Linked DNA regions of Homo sapiens. The protein of the gene in region 2 interacts with the protein of the main gene of each other region in a biochemical or structural test. Each region holds a gene or a part of one and is shown on either strand. Other genes may lie near its edges. The genes, in order: DAPK1 and PPP2R2D.

Region 1 (10,174 bases), on a different chromosome or scaffold from region 2:
ATCATCTGACGCCAGAAGAGCTCCCAGGAATGAAATCTGTGAAAGATTCTGGCATCACTCCCAGCAGTTCACACACTGACTGTAGAGACTTTGAATGGCAAAGCCAATATCTAGGAAGACAATTTTCTATATTCCCATCCCAAGTGCACAGAAGAAAACGCTGGCAGGATGGCCGGGCGCGGTGGCTCACGCCTGTAATCCCAGCATTGTGGGGGGCCGAGGCGGGCGGATCACCTAAGGTCAGGAGTTCAAGACCAGCCTGACCAACATGGAGAAACCCCATCTCTACTAAAAATATAAAATTAGCGGGGCGTGGTGGTGCATGCCTGTAATCCCAGCTACTCGGGGGGCTGAGGCAGGAGAATCGCTTGAACCCGGAGGCAGAGGTTGTGGTGAGCTGAGATTGCGCCATTGCACTCCAGCCTGAGCAACAAGAGGAAAACTCCATTTCAAAAAAAAAGAAAAGAAAATGCTGGCAGGCTGTGCTTTCAATTATACTGATTTATAGGCCAATGAAATATTATTTTAAGGTAATAAATAACTTTTTAGCGCTTTTTGCCTTACCAAATTCCTAAGGACAGCTCTTCTGTGTATTATATACCATTCAGCATCTCCAACATGAGCAGCACCCATTAAAAGTCTGTTCTCTACAGGATACGTATACCTGCAGCGCCTGTAGCTTTGTTTTTATAAAGCCAAACAGCTTGTAATTCCTAGTCTATTAAATATTACACTCCAAAGGTTGCAGCCTTTCATCACTTTCCCAGAGACACACATTTCTGCTGCTTACCCATAAACCACAGATGGCCTCAAAAATTGAGCTTTACACAGAGGAGGCAAAACAATTTCGAAAAACTTCTCAAAGGAGGGTGGAAATATCGGAACTGAATCAACACTAAATTCTGACCTCTTCTCTCTGCCTGTCCCATGGTATCCTTCCGCCACTTTTTTTCTTGCATTGCTTTAGGTGTACCTATCCTCTCTGAGGCAGCCCAGTCCTGGATAGACATATGAGGTGCTAGGCAGACAGACAGGCAGCTCAAAGGAAAATCTAATCATTTTCATGAATGGGGAAAAAAAAGAATGGCATTGATGACTTTCTCTACATGTCTTTTTCACCTGGAAAATTCTATACTGTGGGTCAGGTGTCAGGGGTTGTAGTAAGGTCTCAAAAATCCTGACAATCGTGGCCGGGCACGGTGGCTCACGCCTGTAATCCCAGCACTTTGGGAGGCCGAGGTGGGCGGATCACGAGGTCAGGAGATAGAGACCATCCTGGCTAACACGGTGAAACCCTGACTCTACTAAAAATACCAAAAATTAGCCAGGTGTGGTGGCGGGCACCTGTAGTCCCAGCTACTCGGGAGGCTGAGGCAGGAGAATGGCGTGAACCCGGGAGGTGGAGGTTGCAGTGAGCCGAAATCGCGCCACTGCACTCCAGCCTGGGCGACAAAGCAAGACTCCGTTTAAAAAAAAAAAAAAATCCTGACAATCTTTCTAAGGTGAAAAGGAAAAGTTGGACCAGTGCGGCGACTCACACCTGTAATCCCAGTACTTTGGGAGACCGAGGAGGGCAGATCACCTGAGGTCAGGAGTTCCAGATCAGCCTGGCCATCATGGTGAAACCCCGTCTCTACTAAAAACACAAAAATTAGCCGGGCGTCGTGGCGGGTGCCTGTAGTCCCAGCTACTCAGGAGGCTGAGGCAGGAGAATCACTTGACTCAGGAGGCAGAGGTTGCAGCGAGCCAAGAGCATGCCACTGCACTCTAGTCTGGGTGACAGAGCGACACTCCGTCTCCAAAAAAAGGGAAAAGTTTATACAGTTTCAAAAGTAAAAGCAATGAACTAAGACATAACTATTCAACAATGAAAAGTAGTTCATTTTTGTAGGTGAAAATTTATAATATCAACTGCACTTAAAATATTTGCCAGCCAGCCTCATTCATCACATATTTCCTAAATAAGAATAATCAGGCAGTTTTGACAGAAAAATAAAATGTGTCCCAAAAGAAGTCCGTACCTCGAGCCAAATTTCCCAGCCAAAACCCATCAGGCTTATGAATATAAGTGCCATCAATATAAACTTTTCACACTTCAGAGATCGGCAGTTTACAAGCATTCATTTGCTCAAACATTATGTTCTTCGTCCAAAGTTGTATGTGTTTATAAAGGGAAAAAAAAAATCAACAACATTCTCCCAACCTCCTTCCCTCCCCTCCCCACCACTCTGGCATCTCTAATTATATGTTAGGTTACTGAATAAAATTTTTCAAGCTCACAACTGAAACATCGAAAGGTAGTACATAAGGTAAAAGCCCCGTGAACACCAGATGCGGTGGCTCATGCCTGTAATCCCAACACTTTGGGAGGCTGAGGCGAGCAGATCACCTGAGGTCAGGAGTTCAAGACCAGCCAGACTAACATGGAGAAATCCTCTAAAAATACAAAATTAGCCAGGCGTGGTGGTGCATGCCTGTAATCCCAGCTACTTGGGAGGCTGAGGCAGGAGAATCGCTTGAACCCAGGAGGCGGAGGTTGCAGTGAGCCGAGATAGCGCCATTGCATTCCAGCCAGGGCAACAAGAGCGAAATTCCGTCTCAAAAAAAAGGCCCCATGATCACTTCTCAGAAGTAAGCAACATTATACTTCAATGACCACAGTGTGATCCATATGCCACACCAGCTGTCAATGTCACCTAAAGACCAAAGTGACAAACCCGCGTCACTATTGGACCACGCTTGTCAGGTATCTCCAGAGATTAGTTACTATCACATGATTGTTTTGTTTTGTTTTGGATTGGGACAGAAGATAAAACACAACTATTTTAGGTTTTAGATTTTTTATTTGTAAAAACCCACCCAGCACATTAACTCTAGAGCTGGGATACAACTGTACTTACCTAAGAAAGATTTAATAGTTAGAGAAAGTTAGTTTAAATCCATTTTAGTTAGATGATGTGGAAAATCGGAGTGTCAACTTCTTTTTTCTTCCACCTTCTTCTAACTGCACCTTTAAAAAAATTCGTTTATAATAGAATGTACCCAAAGTCATACACTGAATTTATTATAATTGTACTGTCATATAACCTCTTTCAAGGCCGAGAAAGGATGCATTCCATTTGTATAATTTACCCCAACAAACCAGAACAAAACAATTAAATATTATCTTCCACATAAAGTCTCAAACAATCACACACCAACTCTAAGCTAGCCAGACTAGTTGTTGCGTAAGGAAATGAGAAACTGTTGGTCAGTGGCAGGTAGGTGCACGGGTCAGAGACAAGACTCTTAGACATTACATAACTCAAAAGTTAAATAACAATGAAAGTGTTTTTGGAGTTTTCTAAAAAGGTAAACCATTAACTTGGGACTTGAATAAAACTACGCCACATGTTGACATCATTCCAAACTGCAAGGCTGAAGCCATTTGGAAAAGGAAAGAAGGTCCCAGTGTGTCGTTAAGGCCTGCGAAAGTTCTGAGCTCAAAGGGCAGACCCTGTTGCCTTTGGCTGGGCTTCAAATGAAAACCTTCCATGAAGGGTCTACTATTTATCCCTAACCATTTTCTCCATGCAGATGCTGAAATAAATTGGCGCCAAATGGCTGCCTACTTCACCTCTCTTAAATATCAACTTCATCTGGCTTTCAAAGATGGAAAACTGCCAAATCCTAAATAGCACAGATAATGAAATAGGCCTGGCCCTGGGTTCTGGGTCCATGTCTTGCCACCTTTTAATCAGCTGCCTGGAGAAAGCCACTTGACCTGTCTAAACACAGGTGGATAAAATGTGAAGGGAGGCAATGCTGGTCACTCAGCCTTCTTCCAGGTCAAAGTCCCGGCCAGGCACAGCGAGAGGCTGACGCTTATAATCCCAGCACTTTGGGAGGCCGAGACGGGCGGATCACTTGAGGTCAGGAGTTCAAGACCAGCCTAGCCAACATGGCGAAACCCCACCTCTACTAAAAATAAAAAAATTAGCCAGGTATGGTGATGCATGCCTATAATTCCAGCTATTTGGAGGCTGAGACAGAGAATCACTTGAACTGGGGAGGCAGAGGTTGCAGTGAGCCAAGATCGCCCCACTGCACTCTAGCCTGGGCAACAGAGCAAGACTTCGTCTCCAAAAATGCAAAAGGCCAGGCACAGTGATTCATGCCTGTAATCCCAGCACTTCGGGAGGCCGAGGAGGGTGACTCACGAGGTCAGGAGTTCAAGACCAGCCTGGCCAAGATGGTGAAACCCCGTCTCTACTAAAAATACAAAAAATAAGCCAGGCACGGTGGCAGGCGCCTGTAATCCCAGCTACTTGGGAGGCTGAGGCAGGAGAATCACTTGAACCCAGAGGGCGGAGGTTGCAGTGAGCCGAGATCACGCCACTACACTCTAGCCTGGGCAACAGAGTGAGACTCCGTCTCAAAAAAACAAAACAAAATCAAACAAACAAAAAGACACAAACAAACAAAGTCCCTGAGCTCTCTGGGGTACTCTTCCCCAATGGAAACCACTCCCCTCTTGTCAGAAGAGTGGCTTCCTTTGTCTCATAATCAGAAATAAATTTCTACTAAAATAATATTCACTTAATTTATACAAAATGTTAGGTACTCATGGCAGTTGGCTAGAATGAAGGATGAAAGTTCCTAACACATTTCCCTGCTGAGTCAGGCAATGTGACCTTGACCATGCCACTCCCAGATATCAGATATCCAGCAGCTCAGCCCCTCACCCCTAATCATCTGGAAAGAAGTGGTCTGGATTACAACTCTGCTAGGAGGGAAGAGAACAAGGTGGAAGAGCCAATGTTGCCTCTCCTGATATAACACCTGTATACAACTACAGTCAGCCCTCTGGATCTGTGGGTTCTGCATCCATGGATTCAACCAACCTTGTACCAAAAATATTCAGGAAAAAACTGCATCTGTACTGAACATATACAGACTTTTTTTTCTGGTTATTATTCCCTAAACATTATAATGCTACTATTTAGTTAGCATTTACATTGTACTAAGTATTGTAAGTAATCTAGAGATGATTTAAGATATATGGGAAGATTACATCAGTTATATGCAAATACTATGCCATTTTATATAAGGGACTTCAGCATTTGTGGATTCTGGTGTCCCCAGAGGTCCTGGAACTAATCCGCCATGGATACCGAGGGATGAGTGCACTGGAATTTATCTGGACATCCATCTCTGTAGGTTTCTTATGAGTTTTTCATGGCTTTGCAGAGGCATATACCAATGATATGGGGCCTTCAGTTTCCTCATTGGCCGGGGAGACACAAGCTGAGGGTAAAAGAGCATGGGGGACCAAGAAGTGAGCTTCCATGTTCCCTGGCTTCCCGACCAATAAGCACCTCCACCTACTCTGTTCCTGGCCCCCTTGAACCTAAATTTGATGCCTGCCCTAGTAATCCAGCAACACACTCCCAGTGCCAGCAAGCAAGCATTCAACCAAACTGCCACTTACTAACACCATCATGCTTTCCCTTCACATCCTGGAAAATTATTATTAGACCTTCCTAAAATGTACACACTTTTAAAATCACTAACCGTTGCCTTTAATCTATGTAGCTGAACTTTATCTCTCTTAAAACTTTGGACCCTTTCCTATCAGAGGAAACATCTGAGAGCATTCTGAGTCAAAAATGCTAAGAGGAAAAATGTCACATTCAGCACAGTCCTATAAGGATGCAGAAACCCACCGGTGGCCTGCGGTTCCCATTTCTGAAGAAAAAACATGCCAGAAAGTCTCTCCCCTTCTATGAGCCACACAGGGTTGCCATTATTCATAGGACTGACTCCTGCAATCCACAGTAAACCGGTCTAGAGAAGCACTTGGACTGCCAGGGCTTATGACAATTTCTTACTTCAATTAAAATGCCTATGGATTTTATGCCGAAAGGGGAATGTTTTAAACTTGAATTATTAGCTTCCAATGACCATCCAAACCAATGTAAAATATTTAATGCTCCACTTCATTTGTTTTGTTTAAAACTGATCTTGTGCTTGAAAATTTTGGCTGCTGTGCTCATTACTGTTCAGCCACAAAGAATGCAAAAACAAGAGCAGTTTTTATTTTGATGAGCGGCAGCCATTATATCCTAAGTGTTCATCTTCACCACAAGCCATCATTTGTTGAGGCCCTAATACATACATATTCTTTCAAGTTGCTTTACATATATTGATCCACTCAGTCTAGTCTAACAGCATGCATTTACTGAGCGCCTTCTAAGTGCCATGCATCAACCTGGGCATTAGAAATAAAAAGTGAGGAGCAAGTCCAAGGTAATGGCCCCATGGAGAAAGCAGATCATCAAATAAGCAGTTACTATGCAATGTGGTAAATGCTGTGATGGAGAAAACAGGTTATTAAAAATAATAAAAATGATATATTAGAGGCCAGGCACAGTGTCTCTGCCCTATAATCTCAGAGCTTTGGAAGGCCAAGGTGGGAGGACTGCTTGAGCCCAGGAGTTCAAGGTTACAGTGAGCTATGACTGTGCCACTGCACTCCAGCCTGGGAAACAGAGTAAGACCCTGTCTCTAAAATATATATATATATACATATACACACACACATATATATAAAAAACATATACATATATATATATTTTAGACACATCACACTTAGTAGGTGTTCAGTAAATGCATATCTACCTGTAGACTAGAAAGACAGACTGCATGTCAGATGTTTAAAGCCACGTCTGTAATTCTAACAACACTCTACCAGGGTAGGTGTCTCCCCACTTTCCAAATGAGCATTCTCAGGTTTTTCCACACTGCACACTGCCTCTCTAACAGTATCAGCATCAGCATCATCGTTTGCATCTTACATCCCCATTCTGGTCTCAAAATTACACTTGCCAAACTGCATTAGCTCATTGAGGCATGCATTAATCCCAATATTGATCATAGATACCAATTTGCAGGAAGTCTATGAAACCCTGCACACCATGGGGAGAAAGGACCACAACAACTCCAAACCACAGGGCACACCCCAAAGAAACTCACAAGCTGGCTGCAAAGAGTAATACAAGACTAATAAACATGAAACAGGATAAACATGTCACTGGGCAGTCTATGGTCATGGACAAAGAGAGTCTCAGAGAAGTCACTTGACTTTAAAAGGGGAAACTCATTGTGGAAGGATTCATTAAGGAAGTAGGACTTAGGTCTTAAGATCATATAAGGTCAGATGGTGCAATAGGAAAGAAGGCCAGTCCCTCAGGAAAGCAGTGTACACAGAGAGGTGCCCAGGAGGCTCACAGGTTAGGCTGAACGACGGCCAAGGGTGTAACTAGAGCCCGACAATGGGGCAAGTCAGCCTGCAGCTGCCCGAGGTGCCAACTGATAAGAGATGCTAGGGCATCCTGGGGCATTAAAACACCTCGGTATAATAGCAGATTTATAAGAACTCCTCCCAGAGACTATTACACATCATGGAGGCAGTTCTTTGTTCCGCCTCCTGGGACAGAGGGTGAGACCCTAAAGGGCCTCCAGGAGCCAAAACTGAAGGCCACCAAGCACCCTTCTAAAGATAACAAGTGCATCTGCTGCAGGGACTTGCTTCTGCTTGGAGGGTGTGCCAGCTCAAGGCCAGGGCTGCATTATTCAGAATCATAGTGGAGGCTGAATGCTGTCAGCAACCCTTCTCCCCATGACCCTTTTCCTATAAGGCATCCCCTCCCAAAGCTGGTAAACAGAAACTTAAAGAATATTGACTTGCCGGCCAAGTTATTAGCTTGCCTGGGGCACCCAGATGTCTCAGCCAGTCTACAGATAATATCTATATTTGTTTAACTCTCTACTGCTGATCAACTACTTTTACAAGTTAGATTATTTTTACAACAGCAATGAAAAAAGCACTAAACCTCTCATAGAGGAAAATCCTGAGTGTCAGAGTGGGTAAATGGCCTGTTCAAGAAAACTGGCAAGTTGCAGAGCCAGGTTTTGGACCAGGGTATCTGTCCAGTGGCCCATCTGCTCTATTACTGCTGCAGATGGACTGCTGCAATAGTTGCAATACTCTATAAAGTTCCTGACCGTTGACAGAGAGCTTTTACAGAAGTCTTAGGCAGTACACACAAATACGAACATTTTCAATTTTCCTAAAAGTAAAATAACATTAACAATAATACTTGTACTCTACTTCTTCAAAAACCCATCTTTCCTCCTGGCTATGTACTTTGTCTCACTACATTTATAAGGTAAGTGAATCGTTATTATTTAGATGACTGCTAAAGATATATAAGTAAAGTCTTTTTTTTCTTTCTTTTTTTTTTGAGACAGAGTCTCGCTGTATCACCCAGGCTGGAGGGCAGTGGCGCGATCTCCATTCACTGCAACCTCCGCCTCCCAGGTTCAGGCGATTCTCATGCCTCAGCCTCCCAAATAGCTGGGACTACAGGCGCGCGCCACTGCGCCTGGCCAATTAAAGTCTTAAATCTTAGATAATTTTTTTTGTATTTTTAGTAGAGACAGGGTTTCACTATGTTAGCCAGGCTGGTCTTGAACTCCTGACCTCGTGATTTGCCTACCTCAGCCTCCCAAAAGTGCTGGGATTACAGGTGTGAGCCACCTCGCCTGGCCAAGTAAAGTCTTAAATCTTAGATACTGGTCTACTAGTAATTCACTGCTTAGAATGACCTTGCATTTGTGCCACATATCTGCCCATTTCCATTTTCCTGCCACCAAACTCCTGCCTCCACTCCCAATCTTCCCTCAGTGACACGTGATGTCATATAAGCAGCATCTTCCTACATGTCCATTTTACATTAGGACTTGTTTTCAGGAAGTGGCTACATCCAAGGCAGACATAAAATCAGGACTTGAAAAATTTTCCAAAAAACAATCATTCACTCATTTTTTGGCAAAAACAATAGCAGTTATACAAGATAGATGAGTCTGTACATTTCATTTTTAAAAACTTCAGACTTCCAGTTTTTCAGAGCATTTCTTTAAAATTCCTAGGTCACACAAATTATTTAATAAACAATTTGTCAATTTGCCTTGCACAGTGGGGAGAACGTTATACACAAAAATGTACACTGAGCAAATCAAAGTGCTAGTGACAAATAAGTAAGCCACCTCCCTCCCCTCATCATCACGCCCACGAAATAAAGATCAAAAACTCCCTTCGCCAACCACAGGGAGGCCTCTTTTTCTATTTCTTTCTCATAACACATAATGGTACCAAAAAATCATAATGAAAATAAGGTCAATATACTTAATCCATAATATAATAATCTCAACTAATTTTAGTCATCTCTCTTTCTAACAACACTTAAACGATCAGGCCACACTATGCAAATCAAATTAAAATTTATTTTTTTGCTTTTTTCTTCCAGTCCCAAAGGAAAACTCCAAATACCACTCATCTTGCTGAAAACCACAGTAAAGTTATTTAATTCCAGTTAAACCAAATATTTCACCCACACACTCTTAAACTTTAATCTTAAACATATCCATGAAATGTGATGTTTGAAGAGCTTTCCTTATTTACTCACCAGATCATCAATATACAGAGAGCTCTTCCTAAGCACAGGCCCCCATCTATGTTTTCAGTCGATACTAAATATTTAGAGAAATACTCTGTTACAGTAACTTTTAAAAAAATTCTACACTATCATTTGAATTTTTAAAAAAATTTAGTTAAGCTTAGTTTCCATAATTCTCATTAGGCAATCCAGGATGTGGGTGTTTTTTAATTTCCTTTTCATGGAGAAAAAGGAAGCTTTGTATCAGGACATCAGATGTATATGGGAAAATACATATTTCAATGCACATATAAGTAAATACATATTTTGTTTGTTTAAAGATCCTTTTGCCTACTCCACTCACAATGTAAATACACCACAGTCAAATTCCATAAATTCAGTTTTAAATGTATGTATGAAAACTAGGTTTTCTACTAAAGTTGACCAGAGCCCAAAACACTCTGTCTAATACACAGTCAAAGGAAACAGCAATCAGCCCTTAGATGCCCCGAAAGAAACTATTCTTTGTTTACCTAGAAACTGAAAGATTTTACACTGAGAATCACAGCTGCTACAGCAATGGAGGTATGCTCTGAATCCAGATAGCCATATTAGACTCTCATTGATTTGTTAAAAATTTAACATTGTAAATGAAACCAAAGCAACCACCAACACCAACCAGGTAATTAAATTCC
Region 2 (10,174 bases):
TTTAAGACACCAGTTTCTGTTATATTAAGAAATACACTAAAAAGGTTCTGATTGGAGATATTTATACAAAATCATCGTACAGGCCAGCCTCAGAAGCAGAGTCCCGGGCACCGGTGCTCCCCGGAGGGCAGTGCCGCCCCCTGGCCAGCTGCCTTGCTGGGCTCTCACTTCCAAAACCCCCGCGGGTTCTGACTGGCACAGGGGTGTGTTTATTCAGGAAATGCGTGCAGGAACTCAGGCGGAGGCGCATGAAATTAGGGACAGATGGGAGCAGATGGGGTGGGAGACTGTCAGTCCTTAAGATAATGTAAAAAAAAAAAACCCTGGAGGACATCAAGTGTGGGTTCCCGTCCTGGGTATGACACCACCACCTGCCCTGGCCAGAGGCAAGTCGCAGCCGCTGTGCCCTTGGGACTGGGTGCTGGCGCCAGAGCACACAAGGCGGAAGGTGAGGCCCGGCCCAGGACGGCAGCGCCTCTGCACCTGTCACAGCTTCGGGGGTGCCGCAGTTCCTAAAAGATCAAGGAGCCCTGGGTGTCCTGTAGGCAGCCCCGCACTGTCACCAGAGATCTGAGGGGCGTATGGGGCACAGAGGCACGGAGCTCAAAGCCAAGCCCAGTATCACCCCAGTGCCCAGCCGGGTGCTGTGGTGTGTGCGTCTGTGACCCATGGCCAGGGTGGCTGTAGGGAAAGCCCTGGCCCAGCGCCCACCTGCAGCAGGCACTTAGGAGGGGTTGCCACCCACAGCAGCCAAACCCCACAGCTCTGCAGGGCCTGAGCTGTGACAGCCCTGTGGGGCTGGGGGTGCTGCCTTTACTCACATCTGGTCTACACTCCACCCACCCCTGCACACCACCTGTGCAGAGAAGCCCACTGTCGGGGACTGCTGAACTTGGCTTTGGCAGGCAGCCCCCTCGGAGGACGGGACCCAAGGGAAGAGCGCGGGGCCCGCCAGGCCCCCAGGCCCAGGCCTCTCCCAGGGGTTGGGGAAGCGTCGGCCGCGGGCAGCGTCTGAAGGTGGTCTGTGGGCCCTTGCAGCTCCACCAGTTTGAGCTGCATTGTCTCCCCACCTGTGGCTGGATTCCTGGCTTGCTGTCTCACCAGCTCACGGACAGCTTCCGTCCCTCTCCCTTGGCGATCCCAGCACAGCAACGACAGGACAGCTCGCCACAGAAGATGCGGCTACAGCCCCACTCAGCACCCCTGGCCCAGCCCAGGACGAGCAGAGCCACGCCCTCATACAGCAAGCCCATCCTGTCCCTTTGCCTGCAGCTCTGGGAAGATGCGACCTCTGCTACCCAGCACAGCCCGGACTCCTGCTGGCTCTGACCTCACTCCCCCACTCCCTGGCTGATGCCAAAGCCGCTGGCCAAGGACGCACAGCACAGGTTTAGGAGAAAGCAAGCTTAAGGCCACCCGGAGAGCCTCCGCAGCCCCAGACCCACTCTTCCTCCCAAGCAAGCAAAGGGGTGATGCAGAGCAGCCGGGCCAGGCGGATCCAGGGCCAGCTTCTTCCGGCCGGGAGCAGGACACACACCAATCCCATGGCACTGGGCTTTGGGAGGCTTCTGGCACTGATGGTGATGATTTGGCTCCACACAGGACAGACAGACACGCACATGCTGCAGTCTCCAGCCACACCTGCCAGTCGTGTGGCCTCCAAAATCAGACTGAGTCTGTCCACGAGGGCATCATAAACTGGTTCATAGGAGCTCCATTTTTCTTTCAAAAAAGGCACGTTAAATCCACTTACGAAGAAAGTGTGTTCATGGAATCCGGGTCATCAGCCCAGAGAGCAGCAAACCTCCACCTGAACCACGGGCCCAGAATCCTCATCAATGAAAACTGTGCTCAGCATTAACCTTCAGAAGCTGATGACACTGTTCTACTTTAAGCAGGAAAGAGAAGTTTTCTCCGCACCTGTTGAGGGCACGTCTTCCTCCGCGCCTGTTGAGGGCACTTCTCTAAAGTGAATGGATCCTGCTTTTTGCGGACATAGGTGCGTGGAATTGCCAGCGCCTCTCAGAACATCAAGACTGCACTGGGGAGAACCCACAGAAACGGACAGGACTGCTGGCCAGGTGGCTTCCCCCGCAGGCGCCCCAGAGCTAGGTGACGACACCTCCAGGGAACGTGCGCCGCAGACCTCAAGGCAGTGGCAGTTCCACGGGAGCAGCAGTGCCACGTGGAACCTCTACACACGGGACCCGCCTGGGCTGCACCTTCTGCTCTGCCCTGGGGGTGGAGGAGGTGGGCTATTTAGTGGGAAATACATTCTAGAGGAAGATGGAAAAGGGTGTCCAAATACGCAGTGAAAATCCAGTTAAACATTTAAAATTTATTGAACTTTTTGGTCAAAATAGTTGAACAAATATATACAATCCCATTTTACTAGAACTGTCTTAAGGACCAGGGTTGACTAATGCTTAAATAACTGTTCCACACCTCAGACTTTGTAAATTGTGTCACAATCAATATACAGTATATAAATTATTTTTTAGTTAAAATAAAGGTACCTTTAGATTCTCAATTTCTAACTTAATGTGAACTCAAGTGGCACTGTGTTAGCATTGATTCAGGGTAATGACGGACATCCTGTTCTTGCCCATGTGGATTAGTAATCAGCACACACCTTCACCTCCACAGGGGGATGGGGGATCAACACACACCTTCATCTCCACAGGGGGACCGGGGATCAGCACACGCCTTCATCTCCACAGGGGGATGGGGGATCAGCACACACCTTCATCTCCACAGTGGGATGGCGGATCAGCACACGCCTTCATCTCCACAGGGGGATGGGGGATGAGCACACGCCTTCATCTCCACAGGGGGATGGCGGATCAGCACACGCCTTCATCTCCACAGGGGGACGGCGGATCAGCACACGCCTTCATCTCCACAGGGGGACGGGGGATCAGCACACGCCTTCATCTCCACAGGAGGACGGGGGATCAGCACACACCTTCATCTCCACAGGGGGACCGGGGATCAGCACACACCTTCATCTCCACAGGGGGATGGGGGATCAGCACACACCTTCATCTCCACAGTGGGATGGCGGATCAGCACACGCCTTCATCTCCACAGGGGGATGGGGGATGAGCACACGCCTTCATCTCCACAGGGGGATGGGGGATCAGCACACGCCTTCATCTCCACAGTGGGATGGCGGATCAGCACACGCCTTCATCTCCACAGGGGGATGGGGGATCAGCACACACCTTTATCTCCACAGGGGGATGGGGGATCAGCACACGCCTTCATCTCCACAGTGGGATGGCGGATCAGCACACGCCTTCATCTCCACAGGGGGATGGGGGATCAGCACACGCCTCCATCTCCACAGGGGGACGGGGGATCAGCACACACCTCCATCTCCACAGGGGGACGGGGGACCAGCACACACCTCCATCTCCACAGGGGCACGAGGAAGCAGCACACACCTTCATCTCCACAGGAGGACGGGGGATCAGCACACATCTTCATCTCCACAGGGGGATGGGGGATCAGCACACACCTCCATCTCCACAGGGGGACAAGAGATCAGCACACACCTTCATCCCCACAGGGGGACAGGGGATCAGCATACCCCTTCATCTCCACAGGGGGATGGGGGATCAGCACACACCTTCATCTCCACAGGGGGACGGGGGATCAGCATACCCCTTCATCTCCACAGGGGGATGGGGGATCAGCACACACCTTCATCCCCACAGGGGGATGGGGGATCAGCACACACCTCCATCTCCACAGGGGCATGAGGAATCAGCACACACCTTCATCTCCACAGGAAGACGGGGGATCAGCACACCCCTTCATCTCCACAGGGGGATGGGGGATCAGCACACACCTTCATCTCCACAGGGGGACGGGGGATCAGCAGTACACACCTTCATCTAGATAGGGGAACAGGGGATCAGTACACACCTCTATCTCCACAGGGGCACGAGGGATCAGCACACACCTCCATCTCCACAGGGCATGGGGGATCAGCACACCCCTTCATCTCCACAGGGGGACGGGGATCAGCACACACCTTCATCTCCACAGGGGGACGGGGGATCAACACACCCCTTCATCTCCACATGGGGATGGGGGATCAGCACACACCTTCATCTCCACAGGGGGACGGGGGATCAGCACACGCCTCCATGTCCACAGGGGCACGGGGGATCAGCACACCCCTTCATCTTCACAGGGAGATGGGGGATCAGCACACACCTTCATCTCCACAGGGGGACGGGGATCAGCACACACCATCTCCACAGGGGGACAGGGGATCAACACACCCCTTCATCTCCACATGGGGATGGGGGATCAGCACACACCTTCATCTCCACAGGGGGATGGGGATCAGCACACGCCTCCATCTCCACAGGGGCGCGGGGGATTGGCACACCCCTTCATCTCCACAGGGAGATGGGGGATCAGCACACACCTTCATCTCCACAGGGGGACGGGGGATCAGCACACCCCTTCATCTCCACAGTGGGACAGGGGATCAGCATATCCCTTCATCTCCACAGGGGGATGGGGATCAGCACACACCTTCATCTCCACAGGGAGATGGGGGATCAGCACGCACCTTCATCTCCACAGGGGCACGGGGGATCAGCACACACCTTCATCTCCACAGGGGGACGGGGGATCAGCACACACCTTCATCCAGACAGGGGCATGAGGAATCAGCACACACCTTCATCTAGACAGGGGGATGGGATGGGGGATCAGCACACACCTCCATCTCCACAGGGGCACGAGGGAGCAGCACACACCTCCATCTCCACAGGGCACAGGGGATCAGCACACACCTCCTTCTCCACAGGGGCACAGGCAATCAGCACATACCTTCATCTAGACAGGGTGACGGGCGATCAGCACACACCTCCATCTCCACAGCAGCAGGAGGAATCAACACACACCTTCATCTCCACAGGCGGACGGGGGATCAGCACACACCTCCATCTCCACAGGGGCACGGGAGCCCGACTCCCCACTCCCCTCGGGGACACGTAGTGGGCGTGTGTTAAATCCCACGGAAGCAAGCTCTGGTCACTCAGCATTGGTACAGCTCTGTATTATTTGTCTTGGAAAATCTTGATTTCTGGTATCAAAGATCCTACTTTGAAAATAAACCAACGTACTGGTGGCATCGTGTAATTAAAATTGCTTAATTTTGCTGGCTTGAAATGCAGGATGAAATTTAGCATGCATGTAATTTTAGCAATGTTTAAAAAGTATACTTTCCCCAAAGTGCTTTTTCAAAAGCCTTAGAAAGCAAGCACGTATTTCTTCAACTGTAGTGAATTTGAAGCTACTTTAAACCAGGCTTACTGGATGGCAGCAATTTTGGTTCTTCCTTGCAATTTTCTTTCTCAGAGGTGGCCTCGGTTCTGGCTTTTCCCAGACCTTACCTGGTGTATCTGATGGGCTACTTCTACAGAAACACAGCGGGCAGCAGCTTGGGGACAGAAATGCTGCACACATACCCCCACGCTGCCAAAGAAGGACACACATTTCTCAAACAGTTAGTTCCAAAGAAGAACCCTGCATAACTTCATTCTATGCAATAAAATTAAATAAAAAGACAATACTTCTGTTTGGATTTAAAAACACTTTATAGTGTGTTGTTTTTATTGAGCGCTCACACCCGAAGGGGTGGCGGCGGATGCTGTGGGTGAGTGGGGCCGCCTGAGCCTGCTCGGGCCACATCCACACATCCACAGAGTCCACCTGGACTCGGAGGAAGGCCGAGAGGACACGGACGGTGGCCACACCACGCTGCAGTGAAGGCCCAAGTGTGATGGCAGAGAAAGAGGGAAAGTTGGAGAAAGAGCGGTATCTGACAATAACTTTTCTCTTGGATGTTAATTTTTTGGTCTATAAATTGGAAAGGAAGGCTCGGACTGAAATAAATACATTTATTCTGAGTAATGACCTTTTGGGAGCAGTGTCCGTCAACTCTGCTTCGAGAGCGTCTCCACGTGAGCAGCAGCGCCTGTCTCGCGCCTCGCCGAGGCGGAACCACACCGGGCCTCCAGCGGAGGCGGCTTTCTCCTGTGTCTGTGAAGGGAAGTAGCAGGTGCGTCACTGTTCTTAATGGAGCGGACAATGATGCCTTTTCTCTGACAGAAAAATGTCCGGCTTAACTATGCAAGACAAGACTTGGTCCTCACGTTCGCGTCTCTAGTTGATTTTGTCCTGGAATATGTACAAGTTATTGGTGGCAGCCACGGCAATGACATTGTCCACGGGGTGCCAGGCTGTGTGCAGGATCTTCTTGTTGAAGTCCAGACTGTCCACACTGATCTCGTCTTTCCTCCGCTTACCCCCCGTACACACCTTCCGGGGTTTGAGGCTGGCGCGCGGTTTGCTGCTCTCTCTCGAGGCCTCCAGGGTCACATCCCTCCGCGTGTCTCTATCAAACATCCTGAAGAAGTTGTTATAGGACCCGGTCATGATGGCGCTGTTCAAAACAAGAGCAGACAGCAGCACTCCTCAGTGGGGGGAGCGGCAGCAAGGACTCAGACCCCACCCCTGGGGTGCACAGCGCACGCCACCCTCCCCCACAACCCAGTTACTTTCAGAAATCAGGAATGATCAATCACAATGGGCAGAAGAGAAATGCAGTGAAAATGTGTACCGAGCTTTATCTATAATCATGTCAGTAAGAATCCATGTCACAGGAGAAACAAAATAATGGAGTCACACTTTTAACATTAGTGTATTTTTTGAAACAACCCCACCTATTTATCTCACTCATGAATAACAGCACAGTTTATTTTTAAGCCTTATGTTCTGCAATTTGTCAATGATCCATAATGACCTGAACATAATCCTTATCATGTTCAACAGTTACTAGTCATATCTGTCAATGTTTCTTTGGAGTTAAACTGCTTTTCTATTAATTTCAAAAAGTTTCTTTCAAATGAGGCAACGGATAGAAATAGTAAAAATCCACTGGGCAAAGTGTGGCAGAATTTTAGAACAACTGCATTTCACACACATTCCAGACAATACAATACCGTCCATGCTTTTGTTTCTTCAAGATCAACTGTAATGGCTTTCAAATGTCTCTGCTGTCGAAAAATTCTACTACCGCACACATCCTCATGATATAACTTCATAATACTGGTAAAAACCTCTGCAATCTTACATTTTCTACAAAAATGACAGAAAAATAGCTGAATGATGCAAACGCTGCCATGATTTGACCCATGGCTTCATGAGTCCAGTTTCTGATGAAAGATGTGTTCAAACAATGCCCTTCTGGTTTCTCCAGCCGTCCTTGAAGCTCGCCTCCTCTTCCTATTTTGACACTAACCCGCGCCCTCACGTCCTGCCCCCATGGTCATGCGCGGTGAGAGGCCTTTCACGCTGGCGCGTCTTCAAGGTGCCATGAGAAAGAAGCGGGCCGCTTCCCTTCCATGGCCCAGCACTGACCCTGGCTGCTGGCAAATACCTAGTGTCTGACTGACCTTGTCTAAAACTTCAAAGCAGGGGAAAAAAAAAAAAAAAAGACGAACTCAGAGAAGAGAAACTGCATTCAGCGATCCATGTTTATTTCCCATCTCCTGCTTCCATCCAGGAGCCCACAGCGCCACAGAGGCGGGAGACACAAGGTGTGCCCAGCGCCCTCCAGCAATGCCAAGCTGTGCACGTGGTCTTGGAACAGGGGTATGCAGCCAAGTTGGCACGTGAGGGCCATTGACTGGGGGTTCCCCAAATTAGTTTCCACATAAAACACAATGTTTACGAAAGGGTAAGTAATAAGAATGTGTGAATCTGAAGCTTACATTTATGTTATTAAAACTCAACAGTAACCATTATTCAGAACACAGACGACAGATGATGTATGGCCGACACTGACTGGAATTGCTGGTGCATGGTAATAACGAAAAGCACATCAGCTTTCATACAGATTTATGATCACTTTTAAATTCTCGACAGATAGTGCCAGCCCCAGAGTGGGTGTTTCCACACTGCAAACAAGGGCGCTGCCCAGCAGCCTGGTGCTGGCCCAGGAAGGGAACAGCACAGACAGAGACACAGGCGTAAGCACATAACTGGTTCTGTGGGGCGACCTAGAACACAAGAAGGCGCTGCCACACGGAGAATCAGGATTGGGCTGAGGCAGCACTGAAACGCCTCACTCCCCTTCATCGCATCCCTCAACAGAAGTTTCCAGGTAGGAAGACTGGCGTGTTTTTGAGAGTGAATGGACTAAGCAAATGTTACTGGGAACGCTTTTAGATGTTCTTGGGGATATGTAATCTAAGGGTATTTTGCAATATTTGAAATATATCAAGAGGAATAAAAAATACAGTGACTATCCATGTACCCGCAAGTCACTGCTAAGACAGTGAACCCCCCGCACACTCGCAAGTCACTAAGACAGTGAACCCCCGCACACCAGCAAGTCACTAAGACAGTGACCCCCCCACACACCCGCAAGTCACTGCTAAGACAGTGAACCCCCCGCACACTTGGAAGTCACTAAGACAGTGAACCCCTGCACACCCGCAAGTCACTAAGACAATGAACCCCCGCATACCCGCAAGTCACTGCTAAGACAGTGACCCCCACACACACAACCACAAGTCACTGCTAAGACAGTGAAACCCCCTGCACACCTGCAAGTCACTAAGTGAACCCCCCGCACACCCACAAGTCACTAAGACAGTGAACCCCCGCACACCTGCAAGTCACTGCTAAGACAGGGACCCCCCGCAAGTCACTGCTAAGACAGTGAACCCCCCACACACCTGCAAGTCACTGCTAAGTGAACCCCCCGCACAACTGGAAGTCACTAAGACAGTGAACCCCCGCACACCTGCAAGTCACTAAGACAGTGAACCCCCGCATACCTGCAAGTCACTGCTAAGACAGGGACCCCCCCGCAAGTCACTGCTAAGACAGTGAACCCCCCCACACACAACCGCAAGTCACTGCTAAGACAGTGAAACCCCCCGCACACCCGCAAGTCACTAAGACAGTGAACCCCCGCAAACCTGCAAGTCACTGCTAAGACAGGGAACCCCCGCAAGTCACTGCTAAGACAGTGAACCTCCCACACACACCCGCAAGTCACTGCTAAGACAGTGAAACCCCCTGCACACCCGCAAGTCACTAAGACAGTGAACCCCCTGCACACCCGCAAGTCACTAAGACAGTGAACCCCCGCACACTCGCAAGTCACTGATAAGACAGGGACCCCCCCCGCAAGTCACTGCTAAGACAGTGAACCCCCCACACACACCCGCAAGTCACTGATAAGACAGGGACCCCCCCCGCAAGTCACTGCTAAGACAGTGAACCCCACACACACACCCGCAAGTCACTGCTAAGTGAACCCCCTGCACACCCGCAAGTCACTAAGACAGTGAACCCCCCGCACACCCGCAAGTCACTAAGACAGTGAACCCCGCACACCCGCAAGTCACTAAGACAGTGAACCCCCACACACCCGAAAGTCACTAAGTGAACCCCCCCGCACACCCGCAAGTCACTAAGACAGTGAACCCCCCGCACACCCGCAAGTCACTAAGACAGTGAACCCCCCGCACACCCGCAAGTCACTAGTGAACCCCCCGCACACCCGCAAGTCACTAAGACAGTGAACCACCCGCACACCCACAAGTCACTAAGACAGTGAACCCCCCCGCACACCAAGTCACTAAGACAGTGAACCCCCGCACACCCACAAGTCACTGCTAAGACAGTGAACCCCCGCACACCCGCAAGTCACTAAGACAGTGAACCCCCGCACACCCGCAAGTCACTAAGACAGTGAACCCCCCCCACACATGCAAATCACTAAGACAGTGAACCCCCCGCACACCCGCAAGTCACTAAGACAGTGAACCCCCGCACACCCGCAAGTCACTGCTAAGACAGGGACCCCCCAAGTCACTGCTAAGACAGTGAACCCCCCCGCACACCCGCAAGTCACTGCTAAGACAGTGAAACCCCCTGCACACCCGCAAGTCACTGCTAAGACAGTGAACCCCCCCGCACACCCGCAAGTCACTGCTAAGACAGCGAACCCCCCTGCACACCCGCAAGTCACTGTTAAGACAGGGACCCCCTGCAAGTCACTGGTAAGGTGGTGAACCCCCTGCACACCCGCAAGTCACTGCTAAGAGAGTGACCCCTCTGCACACCAGCAAGT

What was found.
Region 1: of the proteins of PPP2R2D (region 2) and DAPK1, one has a biochemical effect on the other in vitro, tested with the Homo sapiens proteins (one study listed by BioGRID).

The regions. Positions count from the first base shown.
Region 1 is NC_000009.12:87,499,656-87,509,829, reverse strand, and holds part of DAPK1 (death-associated protein kinase 1), read right to left. Parts: intron 1-10,174. UniProt on the Homo sapiens protein: Calcium/calmodulin-dependent serine/threonine kinase involved in multiple cellular signaling pathways that trigger cell survival, apoptosis, and autophagy.
Region 2 is NC_000010.11:131,951,979-131,962,152, reverse strand, and holds the end of PPP2R2D (serine/threonine-protein phosphatase 2A 55 kDa regulatory subunit B delta isoform), read right to left. Parts: intron 6,470-10,174; coding exon 6,190-6,469; 3' UTR 2,319-6,189; downstream 1-2,318. UniProt on the Homo sapiens protein: Substrate-recognition subunit of protein phosphatase 2A (PP2A) that plays a key role in cell cycle by controlling mitosis entry and exit. Involved in chromosome clustering during late mitosis by mediating dephosphorylation of MKI67.